Linked DNA regions of Homo sapiens. The protein of the gene in region 1 interacts with the protein of each later gene in a biochemical or structural test. Each region holds a gene or a part of one and is shown in the gene's direction. Other genes may lie near its edges.

What was found.
Region 2: the proteins of SLC6A4 (region 1) and GPM6B form a complex in vitro, tested with the Homo sapiens proteins (one study listed by BioGRID).
Region 3: the proteins of SLC6A4 (region 1) and SCAMP2 form a complex in vitro, tested with the Homo sapiens proteins (one study listed by BioGRID).

The regions. Positions count from the first base shown.
Region 1 is NC_000017.11:30,211,575-30,219,368, reverse strand, and holds part of SLC6A4 (sodium-dependent serotonin transporter), read left to right. Parts: intron 1-437; coding exon 438-572; intron 573-1,031; coding exon 1,032-1,251; intron 1,252-2,064; coding exon 2,065-2,203; intron 2,204-3,152; coding exon 3,153-3,287; intron 3,288-3,654; coding exon 3,655-3,758; intron 3,759-6,501; coding exon 6,502-6,629; intron 6,630-7,794.
Region 2 is NC_000023.11:13,813,957-13,822,328, reverse strand, and holds the start of GPM6B (neuronal membrane glycoprotein M6-b), read left to right. Parts: upstream 1-5,235; 5' UTR 5,236-5,424; coding exon 5,425-5,485; intron 5,486-8,372. UniProt on the Homo sapiens protein: May be involved in neural development. Involved in regulation of osteoblast function and bone formation. Involved in matrix vesicle release by osteoblasts; this function seems to involve maintenance of the actin cytoskeleton.
Region 3 is NC_000015.10:74,849,214-74,857,007, reverse strand, and holds part of SCAMP2 (secretory carrier-associated membrane protein 2), read left to right. Parts: intron 1-2,358; coding exon 2,359-2,427; intron 2,428-2,888; coding exon 2,889-2,987; intron 2,988-3,511; coding exon of another isoform or gene 3,512-3,640; intron 3,641-4,821; coding exon 4,822-4,939; intron 4,940-5,526; coding exon 5,527-5,655; intron 5,656-6,334; coding exon 6,335-6,494; intron 6,495-7,794. UniProt on the Homo sapiens protein: Functions in post-Golgi recycling pathways. Acts as a recycling carrier to the cell surface.

The DNA.
Region 1 (7,794 bases):
ATTCCGCTTCAGGAGGTCTGGGGTAGACCCAGGAATCTAGGTGACTATGATGTGTGGCTACATTTGGGAAACTCAGCTCTCCTCAACTGTGTTCTTTTATAGGGAGGAAATTGGGGCTCAGAGAGGGGAAGTGGCCCAGCGTTCTCCAGGTAGTCATAAGTGGATGTGATCCTGCCTGTTCTGTCGACTCCCAAACCAGGCTTTCTTCCCAATTGCTCTCTTGGCCTCCTCTGAAACCTCATTTTAGTCATGGTGCTCCCCCTACGACTGCTTCTAGCAAAGCACTGAGACCAGAGGAGCACAGCATGAGGCCACTCAGCCCAGGGTGGCTCCTGACACTCACATCATCCGGCGACTGTGATTCTCAGTCACAGATTGGTTGGGCTATCCTGGGACAGACGTGGGCAGGGAGTGAAATTGTCTTTCATCTGCCTCAGGGGCATTCCTCCTCCCCTACACCATCATGGCCATTTTTGGGGGAATCCCGCTCTTTTACATGGAGCTCGCACTGGGACAGTACCACCGAAATGGATGCATTTCAATATGGAGGAAAATCTGCCCGATTTTCAAAGGTAACTGAAGGGCTCGGTGGGGTGGGTAAGTGGAGCCTCTCAGGAAGGGATTTCCATCAGTGGGTGGGAGCTGGGGACCTTCTTCTGGAATCAGTCAGGCCTTAGGCATCCCTGGGAGACTGCTTGAGTAATTAAGGTTTTGACTGCGTAAGTGGTGTGAAATTGTCAAAGAGAAACAGAATAAACGGCAATGAGAAGTAAACTAATGTAAACATTTTAAAGCATTAACAGGACATGTACACATTTTCTAAAACATGTTACCTTGCAAATACATATGAGTGACTAACGGCAGGGCCACTTTTCCCACGGTGGCCTGGAGTCCTTGGAATGGAATGGAGGGCAGCACCCACGTGTACCCCTCTGCTGGGCTGCGGGGCTCTCCAGTGCCCCGTTTCAGCCTTTTGCCGTTGGGCCACCCTTAAACTCGGCCTCTGTCTCTCCATCTCACCCACTGCCCAGGGATTGGTTATGCCATCTGCATCATTGCCTTTTACATTGCTTCCTACTACAACACCATCATGGCCTGGGCGCTATACTACCTCATCTCCTCCTTCACGGACCAGCTGCCCTGGACCAGCTGCAAGAACTCCTGGAACACTGGCAACTGCACCAATTACTTCTCCGAGGACAACATCACCTGGACCCTCCATTCCACGTCCCCTGCTGAAGAATTTTACACGTAAGTGCACGTAAGTGAGGGGTTGGCCTGTTAGGGGCAGGCCACACCCCTGGGGTTTGGCTTCTTAAAAAGAAGGCCAGGGCCAAGGGCTCCTCACCCCTTTCTGAGAGATGAAGCTATCAGGGGTGGGAGTAGCAGAATTTGGAGCTGGGAAACTCTACCTCAAGTGCTCCACGGCCTGGCCCTGCTGTGCCTCCTTGCACTTTCTCATGCGCCAAGTCAGTTTGCTCCAATGCGCCCAAGCCCGTCCCTCCCTTCACATTCCAAAATTACTCCCCTTCTTCCGGGGTCCTCCTCTCAGCCAAATGTCATGGAGGCGAAGCATCCTAGTACTTTGATAGTTCAAAACTATTCAAATGGTTTAATGTGTCAACTTCGTAAGTGGGATCTACCCTTTGGAAGAAGATGCTTGAGGAAGGTAGTTTTCTTTAATGCTGGAATTTCAGGCAATGGCAGCCCAAAGAGAGAGCTACTTTGGGGTAGGGAAGGGAGCCAACTCCCCACACTTACACATCCCTCATGTTCCCAAAAGCCAGTCACATTGGTCAAAGGAGTTCAGGTCCCATCCAGCAAAGGAGAATCCAGGAAGTCTGCCTTTAGGTTGAACACTCTTCCCAGGGTGTTGGCCAAATGTGCTTTGTGGTCCTTCAGGACAGGCAGGGCCAATCCCAGCTCTTCCTGGGCCTCAGTGACCACTTGGTCCTAGCAGCACCGTGTCCATTTGTCCCGGGCACCCTCAAAGGAGCAGCACAGATGTGTGCCCAGGTCACTCTACAGAGCCTCTCAGGGGCCTTTCTTTCTCCTTCACCCCAGGCGCCACGTCCTGCAGATCCACCGGTCTAAGGGGCTCCAGGACCTGGGGGGCATCAGCTGGCAGCTGGCCCTCTGCATCATGCTGATCTTCACTGTTATCTACTTCAGCATCTGGAAAGGCGTCAAGACCTCTGGCAAGGTGAGGAAGGCTCTGGCTGCTGACCCAGGCCTGCCCAGGGGCCCACAGGCTCTCAAACTCAAAACCCAGTAGCCTGGACAGACAGCACTGTTTCCTTCCACACCAAACACATTCCATGATGCACCCTCTCTCTCTTCACCGCATTTGTTAGAAAATTCTAGAAGTGGGTTGGGCATGGTGGCTCACGTCTCTAATCCCAGCACTTTGGGAGGCTGAGGTGGGTGGATCATTTGAGGCCAGGAGTTCAAGACCAGCCTGGCCAACACATCGAAACCTCATCTCTACTTAAACAAACAAACAAACAAACAAACAAACAAACAAAAAAAAACAATAGCCAGGTGTGGTGGCAGGTGCCTGTAATCCCAGCTACTCGGGAGGCTGAGGCAAGAGAATCACTTGAACCTGGGAGGTGGAGATTTCTGTGAGCCAAGATCATGCCATTACACTCCTGGGCAGCAGAGTGAAATTCTGTCTCACTAAAAAAAAAAAGGAAAAGAAAAAAGAATATTTTCTAGAAATGGGCCAATGCCAAGAACCATTACATGATTTTTTTTTTTCAAGATTCCTTCAACCCACTGGTAGTACCACAATTAATAATCGTGGCAATGACTTACTGGAAACCCATCATGGACCATGTTCAGTGCTTTTTATACACTGGCCAGTGCTATTGTTTCCTGCTAGATACTCCCTCAACCTTACAGATGCATAGTGGGCTCAGAGGTAGTTCTCCTGGCCAACCTGAATCCGATCCCTGTGTGACTCCAAGGGTTGTGATCTTTCTGCCACACCACCTCGCCCTCCTTTCTCAAGGTCTTCAAGAATAAAAGACACTGACATCCATTCACCCACCTCCCTCCCCTCCCCTCCCCTCCCCCGCTCCCTTCTCCTTCTCCCCTCCCCTCCCCTCCCCTCCCTGGAACAGCATGGTGATAACCCTTCTTCCTTACAGGTGGTGTGGGTGACAGCCACCTTCCCTTATATCATCCTTTCTGTCCTGCTGGTGAGGGGTGCCACCCTCCCTGGAGCCTGGAGGGGTGTTCTCTTCTACTTGAAACCCAATTGGCAGAAACTCCTGGAGACAGGGGTAAGATGATGAGGGAAATATGTGTACCTGTCTGTCATTTTACTAAACGAAGCTGGTCCTCCTCCAAATAGGACAGTAGGGACAACTGAAATGTGGCTTCAGTGTGCAAGTCTGCAATGATACTTTAACCAAGAAATACAAGCATTAAAGTACAGTTGAGGCCACTGGATGGGTTTATGCCTGAATCATAGGAAGAGAAATCACATTTGTTGGCACTTGGTTTATGGCTATGCCTGGAATGAGCCTTAAAAGCTGTTTTTCTGCCTCTGCACTTAGCCACATGGAGGCAGGAGTGGCGACCCTGTTGGTGCCAGGGTAAGCCTGTGTCTCCCCCTCACCCCATGCCCTTACCCCTGCTGTGTTCCAGGTGTGGATAGATGCAGCCGCTCAGATCTTCTTCTCTCTTGGTCCGGGCTTTGGGGTCCTGCTGGCTTTTGCTAGCTACAACAAGTTCAACAACAACTGCTACCAGTGAGTATCTGGGGTCCCCAAGCAAAGCTTGAAAGTGGCGTGAGTGAAAGTCAGCTAGTGTGGAGGAAGGTGATTGGACCGACGGCCTCGAATCTGGCCAGGCTTAGGCCTTGATACCACTGCCCCTCAGGGGTGCTGCAGGCCCCTGACCAGCTCACCCATGGCCAGAGCACTCATCCAGGCCGTGGCTTCACCTGGGCCACTCAGGCTGAGAGGGGCCCCATGCCCTTCGGTTTTGTCAGCGCTCCTGTATATAAAAATAATAAGAGGCTGGACATGGTGGCTCACGCCTGTAATCCCAGCACTTTGGGAGGCCAAGGCAGGTGGATCACCTGAGGTCAGGAGTTCCAGGCTAACCTGGCCAACATGGCGAAACCCTGTCTGTACTAAAAATACAAAGATTAGCCAGGCATGGTGTTGCACACCTGTAAGCACAGCCACTTGGGAGGCTGAGGCACGAGAAGTTGCAGTGAGCTGAGATCTTGCCACTACACTCCAGCCTGAGTGACAGAGCAAGATTCCAGAAAGAAAGAAAGAGAGAGAGAGAAAGAGAGAGAGAGAAATAAAGAAAGAAAGAAAGAAAGAAAAAAGAAAGAAAGAAAGAAAGAAAGGAAGGAAGGAAAGAAAAAGAAAGAAAGAAGAAAGAAGGAAGGAAAGAAAGAAAGAAAGAAAGAGAGAGACGGGGTGCGGTGGCTCCCACCTGTAATCTCAACACTTTGGGAGGCCGAGGCGGGTGGATCACGAGGTCAGGAGATCGATACCATCCTGGCTAACACGGTGAAACCCCATCTCTACTAAAAATACAAACAAATTAGCCGGGCGTGGTGGCGGGCGCCTGTAGTCCCAGCTACTCAGGAGGCTGAGACAGGAGAATGGCGTGAACCCAGGAGGTGGAGTTTGCGGTGAGCCGAGATTGTGCCACTGCACTCCAGCCTGGGCGACAGAGTGAGATTCCATCAAAAAAAAAAAAAAAAAAGAAAGAAAGAAAGAGAAATTGCAAAGCAAGTTTACAAAAAGCTGCAACATACAATTAAGTAGTTAGGTTTAACTAGTCAATGTGTTTAACAATAAAAATTGTAATGTGATTATTTGTATTATGTATAAACAAAAAGTATGATGATCACATTATTTTGACTAACACAAAATACCATAATTTTTCTTTTCTTTTCTTTTTTTTTTTTTTTTTTTGAGACGGAGTTTCGCTCTTGTTGTCCAGGCTGGAGTGCAATGGCGCAATCTCAGCTCACCACAACCTCTGCCTCCCGGGTTCAAGCGATTCTCCTGCCTCAGCCTCCCGAGTAGCTGGGATGACAGGCATGCGCCACCACGACTGGCTAAATTTGTATTTTTAGTAGAGATGGGGTTTCTCCATGTTGGTCAGGCTGGTCTCCAACTCCCGACCTCAGGTGATCCACCTGCCTCAGCCTCCCAAAGTGCTGGGATTACAGGCGTGAGCCACTGTGCCCAGCCAAAATGCCATAATTTTTGCAACAAAATCCTATTTCAGAAATTTTAACAGAACAGGAAATGTTACACCAATTATGGTTTTAAATATCACCCACTGGGCCAGGTGCAGTTGCTCAAACCTGTAATCTTAGCCCTTTGGGAGGCTGAGGCAGGAGGATCACTTGAGCCTAAGAGTTTGAGTCCAGCCTGGGCAACATGGTGAGATCCCATCTCTACAAAAAATTTAAAAATTAGCTGAGTGTGGTGGTGCATGCCTATGGTCCCAGCTCTTCAGGAGGCTGAAGCAGGAGGATTGCTTGAGCCCGGGAGGTTAAGGCTGCAGTGAGCTGTGTTCATGCCACTGCACTTCAGCCTGTGCAACAGAGGGAGACCCTATCTCAAAAATAAATAAATAAATAAATAAATAAATGTCACCCATCATCTTTAGACTTAATTTTAATTGATCACAGATGGCAGCATCCATCAATCTCTTTGTGCTATGCATAAGATAATTGTAAAACTGATTTTTTTAAAGGTGGGAGGGAGATTCACATGTACCCTAAGCAATGTGGCCTTGCACTGGGACACCACCCTGCAGTTGTATGATGAGGCTGTCATTTAAAAGTGTGAGATCAGGAGTTTGAGACCAGCCTGGCCAACATGGGGAAACCCCATCTCTACTAAAAATACAAAAATTAGCCAGGCGTGGTCGTGGGCGCCTGTAATCCCAGCTACTTGGGAGGCGGAAGCAGGAGAATCACCTGAACCCGGGAGGCAGAGGGTACAGTGAGCTGAGATCAAGCCACTGCACTCCAGCCTGGGCAATAGAGCAAGGCTCTGTCTCAAAAAAAAAAAAAAAAAAGAAAAAAAAATGAGGGTATCTCTCTGGCTGGCAGTCTGTGACTTAGTTTGAAGATAAAGCCTAAATCTGAGGATCTCACAAATGTGAGGCTCAGGCCCTGTCCTGGCCCCCACTCCAACCTGGGCCCTGCTCCAGAACAAGGCTGGTTTGAAATGGAGAGGTCTGTGCTAGCAGGATTGCCTTTTAAAGCACCCCTGACTGCTCTTCTCCCTCCACCATGTGTGGTGGTCATGGCAGTCAGAGCTTCAGGCCTCGGCAGCTGGGTTCTGGGAGAAGGCGAAGGGACTCCGGGACAGGCTTGAGGTTCCTTGAGTTCAGCCTGCTTGTCCTTGCTGTGGCCGCCCTGTCTAAGGCAGGGCAGGCACACGGACAGATGCTCCTTAGACCCCTGATCTTGGAACTGTCTCAGGCGGCCCCTTGGGTTTTCCCCTCCAGAGATGCCCTGGTGACCAGCGTGGTGAACTGCATGACGAGCTTCGTTTCGGGATTTGTCATCTTCACAGTGCTCGGTTACATGGCTGAGATGAGGAATGAAGATGTGTCTGAGGTGGCCAAAGACGCAGGTAGGACCTCGGGTTCTATGCAGGTCCCTTGCTCCTACTGAGTTGCTTTGCTTTGAATCTTTGTAAAGATCTAACTTTTGATTTATTTCTAAATGTTCCTGAAATTTTCCAAAGAAGGCTGGGCATGGTGGAGTTCAAGACCAGCCTGGGCAACATAGTGAGACCCTGCCTCTATAAAAAAATAAATGAGCTGGGCATGGTAGTGCACACCTATAGTCCCAGCTACTCAGGAGGCTGAGGTGGGAAGATTGCTTGAGCCTGGGAGGTCAAGGCTACAGTGAGCCATGATCACACCACTGTACTTCAGCCTGGGTGACAGAATAAGACCCTGTTTCCAAAACATTTTTTATTCAAAGATTTGAGAGAAGCTCGATGCCTTAGAGATCTTTCCATGTGTTCAGGCCATGCAGGGACAGGGCAACTCCCTTGGCACCCAGTTCTGGGGCCTCCAAAATCTATGGGCTTGAAATGATGACTCTGATGATGGCTTTAAAACCAGTGGGTTTGCTTCCTGTGATGGTCTTGTGATGGCTCAAAGTCTAGTAAGCAAATATCATTTATCCTTAGAACTGCCCCTTGCAGAAAAAGAAAATCTAGCCAATATGACCACTCTATTTTACCGTGAAGTTTTTGTGGAAAAAGAAAAGAGCAACAGAGGGAGAAAAAACAGATGATGGCATCTAGTGGGCGAGGTCCCAGGGCCTTCTTGTTACAAGCATGTTAGCATGCTTGTATCTTTGGCCTGATTCGGTGCTTTGACCAACCCCATACCCCAAACGAGGGCACCCCTAGCTAACCCATGAGAGGCTGAAGACATGTCCCTCACACTTTCAAAAGGGACTTTAAAATAGAAAGAGGTCTTTATTCCAAAGCCTCTGTGACTCTACGGAAATCAATTTAACATTTCCTACTGTTCTGAAGCTGAAGACATCAGAGGGGGCTAACTGTCATGGACTTTAGAAATATCAATCCTGGTCCTGAGAAATCCCATGGAATTGTTATATGGTGGAAACTCTTATTCTCATGTGCAGCTTTGCCAGTCTCTGGGTCTTGGATCTGTTACCCACCCCCAGGGTTAATGGAGGGCACACAGTTTTCAAGATGGAAGCCCCACCCTTCCTGCCTCCCAGGAACTGGGGTGGCCACGTCAGACGGAGTAGAGTGT
Region 2 (8,372 bases), on another chromosome or scaffold:
ATTTATTTATAATTTAGAAAAAAGAAAAATTGCTGTGTAATGGGGCTTGAAGAGAAAAAGAAATAAAATTTGTTGAGGGAGGTGTAGAGCTTGTTCTGGGTATTGATTTCCTTTGAGGGGCAATAAGGAAGGATTATGCCAGGGTGTTTCTTGTTGCTTAAATGTTCCATGAAACACCAAAATTGCAGAGGTATTAGTAGTTAGAAAGAATGTGGAAACATCCCTCCTTCTGATTAATGACTGCCCCCTGAGGAGTCCTTCAAAAGCCAGAAGAAACCTAAAATATCATCCTAGAAAGTTGGAAGGAGGCATTTGACAAAGTCTTTGCTAGCTATGTGACTAGGATAAGGATGTGTCAGTATATCATTATGCAACTTGATGAATTCTCGGTCAGCTGAACAGTCATAGTCATATTAGCATAGAATAGTGATTCGGGTCAGGCACGATGGCTCATGCCTGTAATCCCAGCACTTTGGGAGGCTGAGGCAGGCAGATCACCTGAGGTCAGGAGCTCAAGACCAGCCTGACCAACGTGGAGAAACGCCGTCTCTACTAAAAGTACAAAATTAGCCAGGGTGGTGGTGCATGCCTGTAATCCCAGCTACTTGGGAGGCTGAGGCAGGAGAATCACTTGAACCCGGGAGGCGGAGGTTGCAGTGAGCCGAGATCACGCCATTGCACTCCAGCCTAGGCAACAAGAGCAAAACTCCGTCTCAAAAAAGAAAAAGAAAAAAAAAGTGATTTGATTTCTGGCCTTTAATAAGTGCTTAATGAATCTTGGATGAATAAACGAATGAATGAACAAAGAAATGAAAGAATGAACCAGCCAACTGACCAGGACGATGTCCATAGAGGTCTACATGGGATTCCCTCACCTTGGTCTTGTTGTGTTCAACATTTCTATCAATGATTTGAATCCCAGACACACAAAGCATATTTACTATACTTGGAAACAGAACAAATCTGGGAAGATCATTAATGTAATAGATCACAGAAGAAAAATCCAATATGATCTTGCCAGGTTAAAAACAGGGCCAAGATGTACAGGCATCAGCCAAAGCCCTATGTATGAGTTTAACATGTCAACTGGACCTTGGGAGCCTCCTATTTTGAGGGTGATCGTGAAAGAGACTGGGAAGTGTTATATCCTTCCCCATCATTCAGCCTTCTCACAGAAGTTCCAAAGGCTATTTGGTGGTAAAACTCCTTTCTGCTTGCTAGTCCTCATCCTTTTTCCTCCTTTTATGGTATTTGACACTATTCTACACTGTTAACTTGATGCCCTTCACAGAACCTTTCTCGAATTTCATGATTCCACTTTGGTCTTATTTCCCTCGTTTTCTAATTTGTCCTTCTTTGTTTCTTTTACCCTCTTTTTAAAGTTTTTCCTTTACCTTTACATTTAAAAGGTAGTGTACCCTAAGCTCTAATCTTGGCATACTTGAAATCTGTATCTCTCCCTGGTTGTTTAACATTGATTTAAAATAGATTTTGTTGAGAACCCGCTATGTGCCCAGAAGTGTTCCAAGAGCTCTTAGAATACAGTGGAGAATAAGACAACAATTTCTGCCTTTAAGGAGCCTGTATTCTAGGAGGATGGGAAGTGATGAACAAATAAGTGAATAACAGTGTTGAGTCGTGGTTAAAGCTATGATGAAACTCAAATCCAGATTAAGGGGACCAGGAATGTCAGGGCTGCTATTTTAGACAAGAGTCAGGGAGAGTCCCCTGAGAAGATGGCATTTGAGCAGAACTGGGCTTCTTGTACTCCCAGGGCTGCCTCCACACTGAAGACTCCCGGATGCTGCTCTCTGGCCAGCTCCTCTCTTCTGGAGCCATATTCCTGAATGCCTCTTAGTCCCTGCAGGATGTCCTAAGAGCACCTTCAACCACGCTTGATAATCTCCCCTACCAAACTTCTTCCTTCTCTTTGGTTCCCCATATTGGTTCCCAGCATGACCATCTCCTCACTCACCCAAGCTAGAAACTCTAGCCTCCCCTTCAAATCCTCCTCCACCCCTACTCATACAGATCCAATCCAATGACATCTGGGTCCTCACTTCCTCCCCGTGCCATAGTTCAGGTTCACACTATCTCTTACTGGTACTGTTGCAGGAGACTCCTGACTAGTTTGCCAGCCTCTAGTCTCATACTCCACCCACCCTGTCTTCCACGTTACCAATAGAATGACCTTTGTAAAGCACGATCAGCTCTGCTCTTGAGCCTTCTATCTCTACCTACTGCCTCTAGGGCTAGCAAGGTGTTCAACCTACCTGGTTCCCAACCTACTGGCTCAGCCATCTCCCTTCAGTCCCTCTGTCAGAAAAATCACTTCCTGACCCTTTGACAGTACCCTCTTTTTCCTCTCATATGCCCTTCAGTTTTTCCTAGAACTCTTTCCGTTCCTCTTTCCTGCTTTTCCCTTCCCTACCCTACCCAGCAGGTTTCTAAGCATTACTGCAATAGCCAACTCAACTCTGCAAAGCTTTTTTCAAATTCTCTTCCCCCTCCATCCATTTTCTTTGTTGTGATGCCATAGTGCTTGTGGCAGGCAGGAGCACCCTGTTTTAGAAGAGTTTTCTGTGTCCCATTAGCCGTGGGTTACCTGGAGACAGGCATCGTCACTTGTGCATGTCTGTGCTGCTTGTAGATGTTGGCACTAGGGAGGTTACTTCATGCATGTTTACTGAGCTGGCTGCAATTATACAGAAGACTTACAAACATATAAGTCAAACCACGTGAAACTGCTGTTCTTCTTGGTCAATATCAGCAATTTCATATGTTTATTCTAATCTGTTTTGTTCAGTATTTTGTATTCCTGTTTTGGCTTTCAGAAGTGTTCTTACCTTCAACCAGACTGCCTTAGAGCATGGGGCTCAAAGAAATATTTTCAGCTCTGGAAGACATTTTCCATCCTACTTCTACATATAGAACTTTTCTGGCCAAAAATGGATGCATATCTCAGAAATGTAATAAGCAATACTCTTCTCTCTTCCTCTTGACAATTGTTTTTCAAATGGTTTATCATAAACATCAGTGAGATCTTGAGGCTGTTATAAAGTGATATAATGGTAATTTCTAGAATTGTAATACATTATCCTAGTGAAAAGAAAATGATGAAGTTGTGAATCAGGCAAAAGTGATGAATTGCTCATTTCCATGTAGTTTTTCAGGTGGAAAGTAGATGCAGGTATCAACTGGAGGATGTGTGAATATTTTGTCTAATGGTTTTGATCTCGATATAGAACTAGAGTTGTTCTTAAATTAAGAATGTCTTTCATATTCTGCCTTTTCACCAGCATCACTATTAAAATAATATTCTTAAGCAACAGCCAAAAAATTATTAGGATCTGCTGGTTCTATAATCAGATGTTTTTGCTGGACACTTTAAAAACCAATAACAGCTAATCACAGTGTCCTCTTTTGTGCTGAATTGAATTTTGTTTTGGTTTTAATTCTCATTTGAACTGCTGGGAAAGCAAGCCTGTTACATACCAACACTTGCCACCTTTCTATATTTGAATGGACCTAAGTAGTCTTTGCAAAAAATGTCTAAGACTGTCCTATCCGGACACACCATAGGGTTTTCCCATGGAAATAATTATATCACAAACGAATCTTTTTTCTAAAGTCTGTGGTTTTAGGCTGCCATACTTCTCAATCCCCTGACCAGGAGACAATAAAATTGGCTGGGGCCTTAATTTGAGGGAATACATATTTGATTGTGGGCGTGGTCTTCTAAGACAATGGTAAAGGGAAAAGCAAGATGTAAAATTAAACGTTGAAACAAGCTAAACTGGTTTTCAAAATCTTCTCGACTGTAACACATCTAGAAGTTCTAAATATAAGAAGGTTTGAGGGATTATCTAAAACCAAGGTATTAAAAGATCAGGTTTTTAGAAGATTTTGATTCAGTACCTTATACTTTTTTTTCAAGGAGTTGAGCAAGAAACCATCAAAACTTAGGAGAGTGATTTTAGGAGAGGGTGGTCTCCAACTTGTCTTTATGTTTGCTTCCAAGATAAGTGTTAAGCCCAACCAACTAGCAGACTATTCATGATCTGGGAATCCTATCAGTGGTCATCCCTGTATTTGACTTGAGTCTCTCTAATTTTTTATAGGGACGGCGAAGGCCAGTTGGTCAGCCAAATGCATAAAAAATGGTGCAGAAATTAGTGATGCTTGGAAACATGGCTCATAATCATGATAAAGGCTTATATGTTGGTATGGGTTGAGAATGTTGGCCTCATGGTATCTGGGTATGCAAGAAGGCAAATCATTATTGGTATACTAGCCTTTATGTTGAATATTTAGAGAGCTCTTGAAAACACCCCTTCGATTTGGAGTGAGGAATTCTAATGAGTAAAACTCCATGTAGAAATAACCATATCCGATTAAAAAACTATTTTGATTTTCATTCCAAGAAACTACCAAAATGTCAGCTCGATATACTTGTGAACATGTTATGCTTATTTTTAAATAAGGAAGGGTGCCTTTTTACAAATTAGGCTTGAGTTTCTCTTACTATCATATATATTAACTATAGACAAGGGAGTGGGTTCTAATAACAAATTGCTACATTGCTATCGTTAAATCCGTGTTTGAGTTTTCTTCCCTCTAATGTATTTTCTCCCCCTCTTTAATTTATATTTTTAAAAAGCAATGTACTTATCTAGAAATTGTATGAAAGACAAATATTTAAGAAAGTAAATAGAGACTATGGGCACGTCCTTTGAATATGTTTTGCCAGGGTCGAGGGGTAAATGAAATAAACTGATACATCATAAATGGACCACACAGGAAAGAAAGTGTCATGCCTATGCAAAGACATGCATTCTCCTTAGAGACGACATATATTGCTGTCGACCAACAAAGTCACGTGGTGGGAGGGGGCTCTTTTCTTTCTCCTTCACATCCCCTCCTCTGATGTCACAAATCTATTTTTTCCTGGGAGAATTAATTAGCATTCATTGGGTGTACTTGGCTAGAAGAAATGAGGTGGGGAGAAAGAGAGAGAGAGAGAGAGATCGAGATTGAGATCTTAAGAAAGAGAGCAAGGAGGAAGAGCCCGGTGGGGAGCAGGTCCTTCTCCCCCACCCCCCTACCCCCAACTCCCACTGGAGCCGCATTGAGACTGTAGGCACCACCGGGCGCCGAATGGCTGTTTTCTAACTGGGATCCTCGGTGACGTATGGCTGCCTGCCCCTTGGCAGCTGTCTTTATGGACCAGTAGGCAGAGCGAAATTGACGCTGACAAGACTTTTGCATCTTGGAAGGGACTGTAATCTACTGTAGTGAAGAACAGAGCCTCTCAATCAGACGGGTGTAAATAAGAGACGGAGGGGAGTCCAAAAGAAAAGGAAGAGGAGGAAAAACAAGTGTGTGTTGGGGGGAACAGGGGGAAAAGCATTTTTGGTGGATGGTATGAAGCCAGCCATGGAAACTGCAGCCGAGGAAAATACTGAACAAAGCCAAGAGAGAAAAGGTACCCAGCGCTCTGACAATAGCCTGTTTAAAGCTTTTCACTGGGGGGTGCTTAAAAAGGGTTAGCTGGGTTTTGTCTCTCTTTTAAAATGGCTCTGAGACAATCCCTATGGCATGGTCTTGCTTTCAGGGTTGATTTTTTTCCTGTGGGCTGATGTTAAGTTAATAGAGCAGCCTTTCTTCAATCCATTCCTGTTCCAAATCTTTCTACCGACGTGATATTTCATAGAGGGATGTCTATAGTTTGTCACCTTGGGCTGATGCATTGGGGAAACTGTCTTTTTTTATTAATATAATTAATCGTAACTTAGGTCTTGTGTCCTGCATGTTATATTCCAGGAACGTGGAATGTGTAGTTTTCTGCTAATGCTGAGGAGGAACTGGAGGGGCATGCATGTTAATTCTGCTTTGGTTCCGCTAATGCTGTAGTGATTTGGGCATTCTCTAATTTTCTTATTCTAATATGATTGCTCTTTCTTGTATCAGGCCCTGACTACGACATGTAATAATCATTTACAGTTGGAGCTTCAGAGAGGGGACATCAGCTCTGTCACCCAGTGCTGATGGAAAGGCAGGGCGGGGGATCTTCTGCTAATTATGACTTGGAGACTGGGGGGAAGAAAATTGATAAAGGTCCTATTTCTTAAAGAGAATCTTAGAACGTACCACAATTTTCATATACAGAATGGTTTTTTGGAGAATAAAGTGTTTTTGCAGTAAGAAAATGGCAGAAAGGAACTAAAATTAATCTCTTTTTTCTAAATAATGACTGATTTCAAGTTTGATGTCCCATAGAATCGGCTCAGCCACTGTTAGGTTAATGGATCTCACTGCATTGTAATTTTCCCTCACTCAAAGTCATAGACTGTCATAAATGCCCAAAAACATATTCTGTAACCGCAGTGGCTCTAATATAAAAAGCCATCATGCTAAGGTTATTTCTCACAGCCCTTGCGTCCACTGATAGTCACTAAAGAGTAATTCGCCAGTACGGGGACAAAACTTCGTTTTATTTATAAAGATACAGGCTGAACCATATGAAATTGCTGATAGTCAACCATTTTAAACCTACAAAAACGGCAATTACATGTACTTCAGCTTCACAGTATGCTGGGGTAAAGACTGCTTGTTTTTATATAAAATTTCTTTGGTACACAATAATATTTTATCCTAAACAGAGCAATTTTACTTTTTAAATTAATTTTTTTAGGTATCACACAATACACATAACATAAAATTTACCATTTTAAGTATACGATTCAGTGGCATTAAGTACATAGCACCTTAATTTTAAAATCGTTTGTTTAGTTCAATCCTCTTACCAAATCTACACCTCCCCACCAAAAACCCAGCCTGTATTTTCTTGTGTGTCTTTAAAAAAAAAAAATCTTCATCAATGACCAAATAGCTATAAGAGAAGCTCTTGGGAATATTTATCAAGATGAAGAAGTGAGATCAAAGTTTTTTCCATGATGACTAGAGACTAAGTTGATTGCATGTTGTCGGGGTATGATAATGTAATAGCATTGTCCCAAGGAAGCCTATCACGATTTTATCCTAAAATGATGATTTTACTTAGTACATACTTTTAATTTTTATTAATGTGGTATTCAACCATGGCAGATAAAACCGTTTTGGTCTTTGCAAAAAAATCCCTTTTTTAAATTTCTCTCTGAAAGGAAGCAAAGGTCATATAACCAATATAAAATCATTACTACACAACTGTGTATCTTATCACTTAGTCTTATGGACTGCTATTATTTTATGTCAATTAAATCTTATTTAATAACAGATCTACAGGTTGCTAGTACATCCCTGACAACCCGTATATGAAAAGTCATTAGTTGTGATTTTAGAGACAAAATTAGAAGCAAAAGATAATTTGTGAAGGAACTTTAAAAATTACCTAAATGTATAAACACTAGCTGCTTGTTAAATAATTCAAAAATATCACACTACCAGAAGCTAGTGTGACATGTATGGTACATGCTTGAATAAGAATACAAGCCAGGGGATTTGTTTTTCCTGATCTACAGCAAGAGGGGTTGTGATTGTTGTGTGACCCACCATAATTGTTGATCTGGAGGGTGGCTTATCTAATCTGCATTTAGATGAACAAGTTCATATGCTGGCTACACAAAATCAAAGCCCACACAAGACACTTTGTAGTTTCCCAATTTGCTCACCCATCATCATTAAGGTACACATAGGATAAAATGATAGCCACAAATGTTTCTGCGTGATTGTCACATCAGTATTCCTTCAGATTTAACTTTAAGTTTATTAAAAAATTATTTTTCCATTGAAATTAACATTTGAAAACTTGACATAATTATTTATAGAATGTGTTATATAATTCTTGAGCTGGTGGATCCGTTTTTTATGTTTTTCTTTTAAGCCTTTCAGCAAAGGATTTTATTCATTAAATTTAATCCTGTAAATTTTGTCACTTTACGCAGAGTTTTTTATGCACATATATATTTTTTTTCCTGTGTTTCTCCTTTCCCATCTGTTTTCAGTGGTTGGTGATGGAGTGATGCCTGTCTCTTAATTTGGGGCATTATTGCCCAATGGCTAATACCCAATAGCATGTGAATTAATATCTTTGGATAATTATTGCAGTGTCTATTAAGAACTAAGAATGTAAATTAAACTTAGCTTTATAAATTGACCTTGCTTTTCTAGTTGGGATCTTTCCTGGGAGTTTCAGCGGGACAACACAACCCAGCTATTGTGATTCACTAACTCCTACAAAGAGAGCTCTTTCTTTAAACTTAATCACAATGACTTTGTTTCTACTTTAGACAAAATTAATCCATGTCCTTAAAAAAGGAAAGCATTTGTGTTTTTTCAGTCTGATAGTTTTCATCACAGCATGCTACCAGATA
Region 3 (7,794 bases), on another chromosome or scaffold:
TCCCATTTTGGGTCCTAGGATCATGGTGAATATCAGTTTCTACATCTGTAAACTGAGGGGGTCACTCTGTGGCTATGTCTAATATTAGCATTGTATTTAACAATTGGATCTGGACAGGGCAAGGTGGCTCACATTTGTAATCCTAGTGCTTTGGGAGCCCAGGGTGGGAGGACCACTTGAGCTTAGGACTTCAAAACCAGCCTGGGCAACAAAGCAAGACCCCATCTCTACAAAAAAACTTTAAAAATCAGCCAGGCCTGGTGGCTCATGTGTGTAGTCCTGGTTACTCCGGAGGCTGAGGTGGGAGGAATGCTTGAGCCCAGGAGTTTGAGGCTACCATGAGCTATGATTGCACCACTGTACTCCAGCCTGGGCAACAGAGTGAGACCCTGTCTCTAAAAAAGAAAAAGGAAAAAAAAAAAAAAGAACTGGAGGCCAGGTGCAGTGGCTCACATCTGTAATCCCAGTACTTTGGGAGGCTGAGGTGAGCGGATCACCTGAGGCCAGGAGTTCAAGACCAGCTTGCCCAACATGGTGAAACCCCATCTCTACTAAAAATATAAAAATTAGCTAGGTGTGGTGGCAGGCGCCTGTAATCCCAGCTACTCAGGAGGCTGAGGCACGAGAATAGCTTGAGCCCAGAAGGCGGAGGCTGCAGTGAGTGGAGATCATGCCACTGCACTTCAGCCTGGGTGACAGAGCGTGACTCTGTCTTAAAAAAAAAAAAAAAAAAAAAAAAAAAAGAACTGGCTCTGCAGAGGCTTCCAGTGGAGGTGAGGCTGGGCCTGAAGTTTGGGAGCATCTGGTTTAATAATTAGGGGTGTGGGGTGAGGTGTGGAACCCAAGCGGTGTCTCCACAGGCAGGAACAGCCCTGAATTTGGCCACCCTCAGGGCTGTTCCTCATGGAGCCCAGGCATGGCTGTGAAGCTGGACCTGAGCCCTGCATCTGTTACTAGGAAGGGGAGGGTGTGGAGGAGCTCTTCTTGGGGCAGGGCAGGGTGAAGACAACTGTTCCAGGCCAGCAGGGGCACAGTAAAGAGGATGGCAGAGCCCCATGCAGAGATCAGATGGGAAAGGGAGACAAGGTTGTGTTCTGAGGACATTCTTGGATTTTATGAAAAGACTTTAAAAAACCCCCGAAACCCAGAAACATTTTCTTGAATTTTCACCTCAGCTCATCATATCTCTGCTCTTAGCAAGTGTGCCCGATTTAATAAAATCAGTACTGGCAGCCAGCAGCATGTTTTTGTTCTAGAAACTTAGACTACTTTTTTTTTTTTTTTTTTTTTTGAGATGGAGTTTTGCTCTTGTTGCCCAGGCTGGAGAGCAATGGCACAATCTGGGCTCACTGCAACCTCTGCCTCCCGGGTTCAAGTGATTCTCCTGCCTCAGTCTCCGGAGTAGCTGGGATTACAGGCATGCGCCACCACACCTGGCTAATTTTATATTTTTAGTAGAGACGGGGTTTCTCCATGTTGGTCAGGCTGGTCTTGAGCTCCCGACCTCAGGTGATCCACCCGCCTCAGCCTCCCAAAGTGCTGGGATTACAGGCATGAGCTACTGCACCCGGCTACCTTAGACTGTCTTTTACAAAATAAGAGGAATGGCCAGGCATGGTGGCTCACGCCTGTAATCCCAGCACTTCGGGAGGCCGAGACAGGCAGATCACGAGGTCAAGAGATTGAGACCATCCTGGCCAACATGGTGAAACCCTGTCTCTACTAAAAATACAAAAATTAGCCGGGTATGGTGGCGGCCGCCTGTAGTCCCAGCTACTCAGGAGGCTGAGGCAGGAGAATCGCTTCAACCCAGGAGGCGAAGGTTGCAGTGAGCCAAGATTGCGCCACTGCACTCCAGCCTGGGTGACAGAGCAAGACTCTGTCTCGAAAAAATAAAAAAATATAAAAAAAGAGGAATAAATGAATAATAAGTAAAACAGTACAGAAAGGTTATAAAGTCAATAGTAAGTCTCTACCCTCACCACCCCATTCACTTGCCCCTCAGCACCCCACCCCTCAAAAAAAAAAAAAAACCCACTCCCTAGAGGTAAATACTATGAACCATTTTGAATCTGTATAGGGCACCAACAGGAGCCTGTGTGGTGTGTACTCTCAAGCTTCTGGGTAAAGCTTGCTCTGGGTCTCTTCTGGGCTGAACCTTTTCCAGGAAGGGGGAAGGGAGAAGGGACCGCAGCTGTGGTGTGGCAGAGGCAGGCACAGGACCCTTCCAGAGAGGCTTCTCAGGGTCCCGGGAGGGTGATCAGCTGCCCTGCTTCAGTCAGGCGTCACCGGCTCGCCTGCCGGCCCCTGGCCCGGATTTTCTCCACTGTGTCTAAGGGCTTTTTTTCACCTTCTCAGGATCCCTCTGTGACCCAGCTGACCAACGCCCCGCAGGGCGGCCTGGCGGAATTCAACCCCTTCTCAGAGGTTGGTGAGCAGGCCCTCTTTCCAAGTCCCATGGCCCTCTAGGGTGGTGCTGGGGTGTCCGGGGCAGGGATCCTTGGCAAGGACAGAAGCAGCTCTGAGAAGCGGCAGTCCTCAAAGGGACAGTCCTAACATGAACCCGGGAGGCAGGGTAAGGATGGCAAAGCCACCAAACGCTCTGTAAAATTCTCCCCTTGGGATCTGTGACCGGGGCCCCTCCCCAAGGAGGTCAGGGCAGTGCCCAAGTGTGCTGGACCCAGCGAGCCCAGGGGTGCCGGGTTAGGGATCAGATGGCCTGAACCTGAGGCTTGTTGGCTGGGAAGCCACAGGGGAAGGCCCAGTGCAGGCCCCGAGGGAGTCCCCTCACAGGCAGGGGCACATCACTCATCCTGCTGTGGGTTTGCCCCCTCGTCACCAGCTAATGGAGTCCCACTCAATTCTGTCTTTTGATTTGTTCCATGTAGACAAATGCAGCGACAACAGTTCCTGTCACCCAACTCCCTGGGTCCTCACAGCCAGCGGTTCTCCAGCCATCAGTGGAACCAACCCAGCCGACCCCCCAGGTAGTGCTGACAAAGAACTCTGGCCTTTTCTCTCCAGTGAGGGAATCATCCAGACCAGTAGCTGAGCCCTGAGGCTGGGGGCAAGCAGAGAGCTTTCAGCCTTGGCCCCCTAAGGGCCCTCTTGCTAATTTGTTCGGAGCTGGTCACCTACAAGTAGAGGGGCTGCTCTGCCAATTAATATCCTTACTCCCTCCATCCCACCCACCACCACCACTGAGAAATAAGCTCTACTCACCAGGCCGGGCTCCTCGGTGCCTCCAGAGAGGGCATTTGTCCCTGTTGTACCCCTCCAGGTCCTCCTCGGGCCTTTGGCTTGTTCTCTCTTCCTTGGGGCCCAGAATCTCTCTCTTTTTTTTAACTTCATTAATTCTCACCTTCCTTCCTGTCTTCCTTTGTCCCTTCACCAAATACTGTGAATCTTGCCTGCTTTGTGCCTGGTGCTCCACTGCGCCGCCTCACTGCCCTCCCGCTGCACCCCTCGCTGCCCCTATGAGCGTGACCCATGGTGGAGTTGTGTGTTGCAGCTCCTGCTTAGACAGGCCAGCAAGTTCCCGCCTGCCCAATTCCTGGCAGTGAGCGAGCTCTCAGAGAGGCAGATGCTCCTAGGAGGAGAAAGTATTCTCAGAGACAGCTACATGCGAAAGCTTCCGAAGGTAGGCCTAATGTAGATGAGCAGGAGGAAGGGCAGGGCACCCGGAGCCTGCCCCACACCCCTCCCAGGCCCCAGAGCCCTGTGGAGGTGAGGCAGGCCTTACATGCGGAGTTGCCTTTCTGTGCAGCTGGGTGGTGGGCTGTAGGGAGCTGGGTCCTTCTCAGCTGGCGTCACAGACTTGGAGGAGGTCAAGACCCCCAGCGTGGCACAGCGGGGTCAGTTCTGCTCCTGCTTCCGCCCCCAGTGCCTGAAACTTGGCTCTCCACGTCAGCCTTAGGTCTTTGAAGAGCTTTTGGAGAGGTTGGTGTGTGTATACATGTGTGTGTGTACACATGTGCCTGGTTTGTCATCCTGTGAAATGACCAGTTTGAGATCTCTCCCTAAAAAGGACTGTAGTCTCATCCTTCAGGAGGAACCTGGCCCAAATGGCAGCAGCTGCCAGCAGGTGCAGGGCCCCGGGGCCAGGTCTGTTCAGCCTCACATACAGTCAGTCCCTTACTGTTACTCAGAGGCTCTACCCCGCCTGGAGAGGAGATAAGTGTGGACTCTGCATGCCACTAAAGCCAGGCAGGGCAGGGCCACACCTAAGGGGCTGTCCTGGGGTGTAGCCAATTGCAGTTTAGGGGGACCTCAGGAGGCAGCTCCTGGGGGCAGGCCATGGGGCAGGGTGCTTGTACAGATCCTGAGGCTCAGGCACACGCCATCTGCCTTCACGTGTCTCCCCTTTCCACTCACTGTTAGCAGGCTTGCACTGTTTTCCTTCTCACACATCCACCAGGCTCTTCAAATGAGGCTTGGGTCTGTGGGTTTCTTATTATAGTTTAGTTTCTTGTGAGGTCTTTTTCCCAAAGGTCACAATCACTGAGCGCTGCCTTGACCCAGTATGGGGAAGAGGTGGAGAAGCCAATGGGGGTAGTTTTCCCAACTCAAGCTTAGGGATGAGGGGAGAGGACAGCTTAGTCATGGCCAAGGGGTCAGGAAGGTGTGGGGGCAGTGGAAGACAGGTTGGCCTCTCTAAGGTGGTCTCTGGTACCTAAGACACTCTGTGGGGCGGGGACTGCTTCTGGGACTCCTTGATGGCTGTCCCTGCCTGGGGCAAGGCCTCTCTGCCTGCCTACCCAGGCTGACACTGTTTCTGTTTGTTGTGTCTGGCTGTCCCTGTACCTCCCCTGTTCTCTCCAGGCCGTGGTGTCTGCAGCCCAGGCAGGCCTGCTCCGGCAGCAGGAAGAACTGGACAGGAAAGCTGCCGAGCTGGAACGCAAGGAGCGGGAGCTGCAGAACACTGTAGCCAACTTGCATGGTAAGGGAGGCTGCTGGGGCCTGGGGCTGCCCTGCCTGGCATAGAAGAGTGTCCTGAAACCTGTGCGGAGGGCCTCCCAGCATTCACCCTGAGCTGCCTTAGAGTTTTGTGGGGCTCTTCTCATCACAGGATGCTGGTCCTGGGAAGAGCAGTAAGTTGCAAGTCAGGAGACCTGCAGTGTAGTTGTAATGGCTGTAGATTACTTCTGCACTCCTTCCTAGCTCTCAAATTCCTTGATTCTTTGATAGCATAGGGGCTTTGGTCCCACAATTCCTTGCTAATGATGATGAACTGAGTTCTCACACTTATGGGCTGCTTGTTAATAAAAATAATCACTTAGGCCATTTAGCTGTCTGTATTTCCCAGTGCATTTGGGGTCTTTTATCTCCATGTGAGCTTGTTGGTATCTCTTTGGGTTCCATTATCCTGTTCTGTCCCACTCCATGCTCCATGCAGACTCCAAGCCCCGCTTGCTGGAGCCCCTCTGGGAACCCTGGTTTGGCCCATACACTATGCTGGCGTGCATGCACCTTGATGCCCCTTCTGAGGCTGGGCCCTTACCTCGTCACTCTTTTTGCCCTACCCAGTGAGACAGAACAACTGGCCCCCTCTGCCCTCGTGGTGCCCTGTGAAGCCCTGCTTCTATCAGGATTTCTCCACAGAGATCCCTGCCGACTACCAGCGGATATGCAAGATGCTCTACTATCTGTGGATGTGTGAGTCCCACTCCTGCCTTCCAAGCGCAAGGGCGAATTGGGTGTGACTTGAGAGCCCCATCTTGGTCCTGGCTGCTCCTCCCTGGTATACAGGCTTTCAGCAGACTCCAGCCTTCCTCAGTGCCTGGGCTGGGTTGGGGAGATGCCTCTGCCCACAGGCTGCCCCCTGTCTGGAAACCTCCTTGAAAGGGGCAGTCCAGACCACCGATCAGGGAGGGTGGGACTAACTAGAGGCTTCCAAGTTCCTTCAGAGCTCACTGCACTAAAAGGCCCTCCTTAGGTGAAGGCCTTCCCTGCCCACAGGCCTGTGAACTCTGAGGGGTGAGGAAGGAGACTCCCCCTGCAGCTCCATCAGGGGCCATCCAGGGCCAGGGAAAAGCATTGCTAAGAGAAAGACTTCCTTCCCCAAGGACCAGCCCTGGGTCTGCATCCTCCCTCCACACCCCTCAGATACCCGGGCTGTCCCATCACCTCTCAGGAACGTAGTTTGATCCCTGGTTTTGAGGTCCCAGAAAACCAGGATATGGGAACTATCCCTGCCTAGGTACAGAGCGGGCTCCTCTGTTTCAGCAGCTGCCTTCGCAGCATGAACCTCACCTCTCCTAGGGAGTGGCTGCCACATTGGAGCCCCTCAGCCACTGTGGCACAAGTCATAACTCTGTCCTGTCCCCTTCCCCAGTGCATTCAGTGACTCTGTTTCTGAACCTGCTTGCCTGCCTGGCCTGGTTCTCGGGCAACAGCTCCAAGGGAGTGGACTTTGGCCTCTCCATCCTGTGGTTTCTGATCTTCACTCCCTGTGCCTTCCTTTGTTGGTACCGACCCATCTATAAGGCCTTTAGGTGAGTGAGGCCGGGGCAAGGGGTGAGACTTTATGGCTGGCATCCCAGGTAGCAGGCTAAGGGCTATAGGCCCTGGGACCCCATCTGAGTCTTAGAGCAGAATAGAATGTAGGGAAATCCACTTTCCCTACATTCTGTTCCTCTGTTCCCACCCAGAGCAGAGATTGGGGGCCCCGTTCCTCAGTTTCTGTACCTGAGGTCTGCTCTGGGCCCTGTCCTTGGACCAGGCACAGGAGACCTAGAGAAGGGACCTCCCATCCCACTGCTCCCAGTCTGGCTGATGCCGTTACTGGGAAGAGGGAGGGGACGCTCTTTGGGAACTCCCTTCTGAGGCTCTAAGGTGTGCTTCTCTGGTAGTATCAGATGAGTGCTCTCCAGGGCTCTTTCTCCATGACTATTGATGCTTCCCAATAAAGACTGCCAACACCTAAGCTAGATACTGGGAACATAGCTGGATACACCTTACAGACCCCCAGGGGTTCTGGAATTGTACCTCAGGGTTTATGCTTTCAGGGCTGGGAGCCCAGCAGGCCCTGGGAAGAGGGATTAGGGTAGTGGCTGAACCATCCCTGTACCACTGGAGGCCCTGAACCCTCACTGTGATCTAGCCCTCAAGGACACAGAGATGGAAGTCCTCAGCTCGTGAGAGAGTTTTGTCTGGTGTCCCCTGTTTCCCAAATATTTTTTTCTTCCAGTCAGATGTACAGGTTTTGTTTTTTTCTCATTGTTCTTTGTTACCACGTATCCTCAAGTTCTATTGTTTTTGTTTTGAGAGGGAGTCTCGCTCTGTCACCCAGGCTGGAGTGCAATGATGCGATCTCGGCTCACTGCAACCTCCTCCTCCTGGGTTCAAATGATTCTCCTGCCTCAGCCTCCGGAGTAGCTGGGCTTACAGGCACACACAATCACACCTGGCTAATTTTTGTATTTTTAGTAGCGATGGGGTTTCCCCATGTTGGCCAGGCTGGTCTTGAACTTGTGACCTCAAGTGATCCACCTGTCTCGGCCTCCCAAAGTGCTGGGATTACGAGTGTGAACCACCGTGCCCAGCCTGTTTTGTTTTTTTGAGACAGAATCTCAGTCTGTTACCCAGGCTGGAGTGCAATGGCGCAGTCTCGGCTCACTGCAACCTCCGCCTCCCAGGTTCAAGTGAGTCTCCTGTCTCAGCCTCCCAAGTAGCTGGGATTACAGGCGCACACCACCACGCCCAGCTAATTTTTGTGTTTTTAGTAGAGACAGGGTTTTGCCATGTTGGCTAGGCTGGTCTCAAATTCTTGGCCTCATACAGTTTTATTATTAA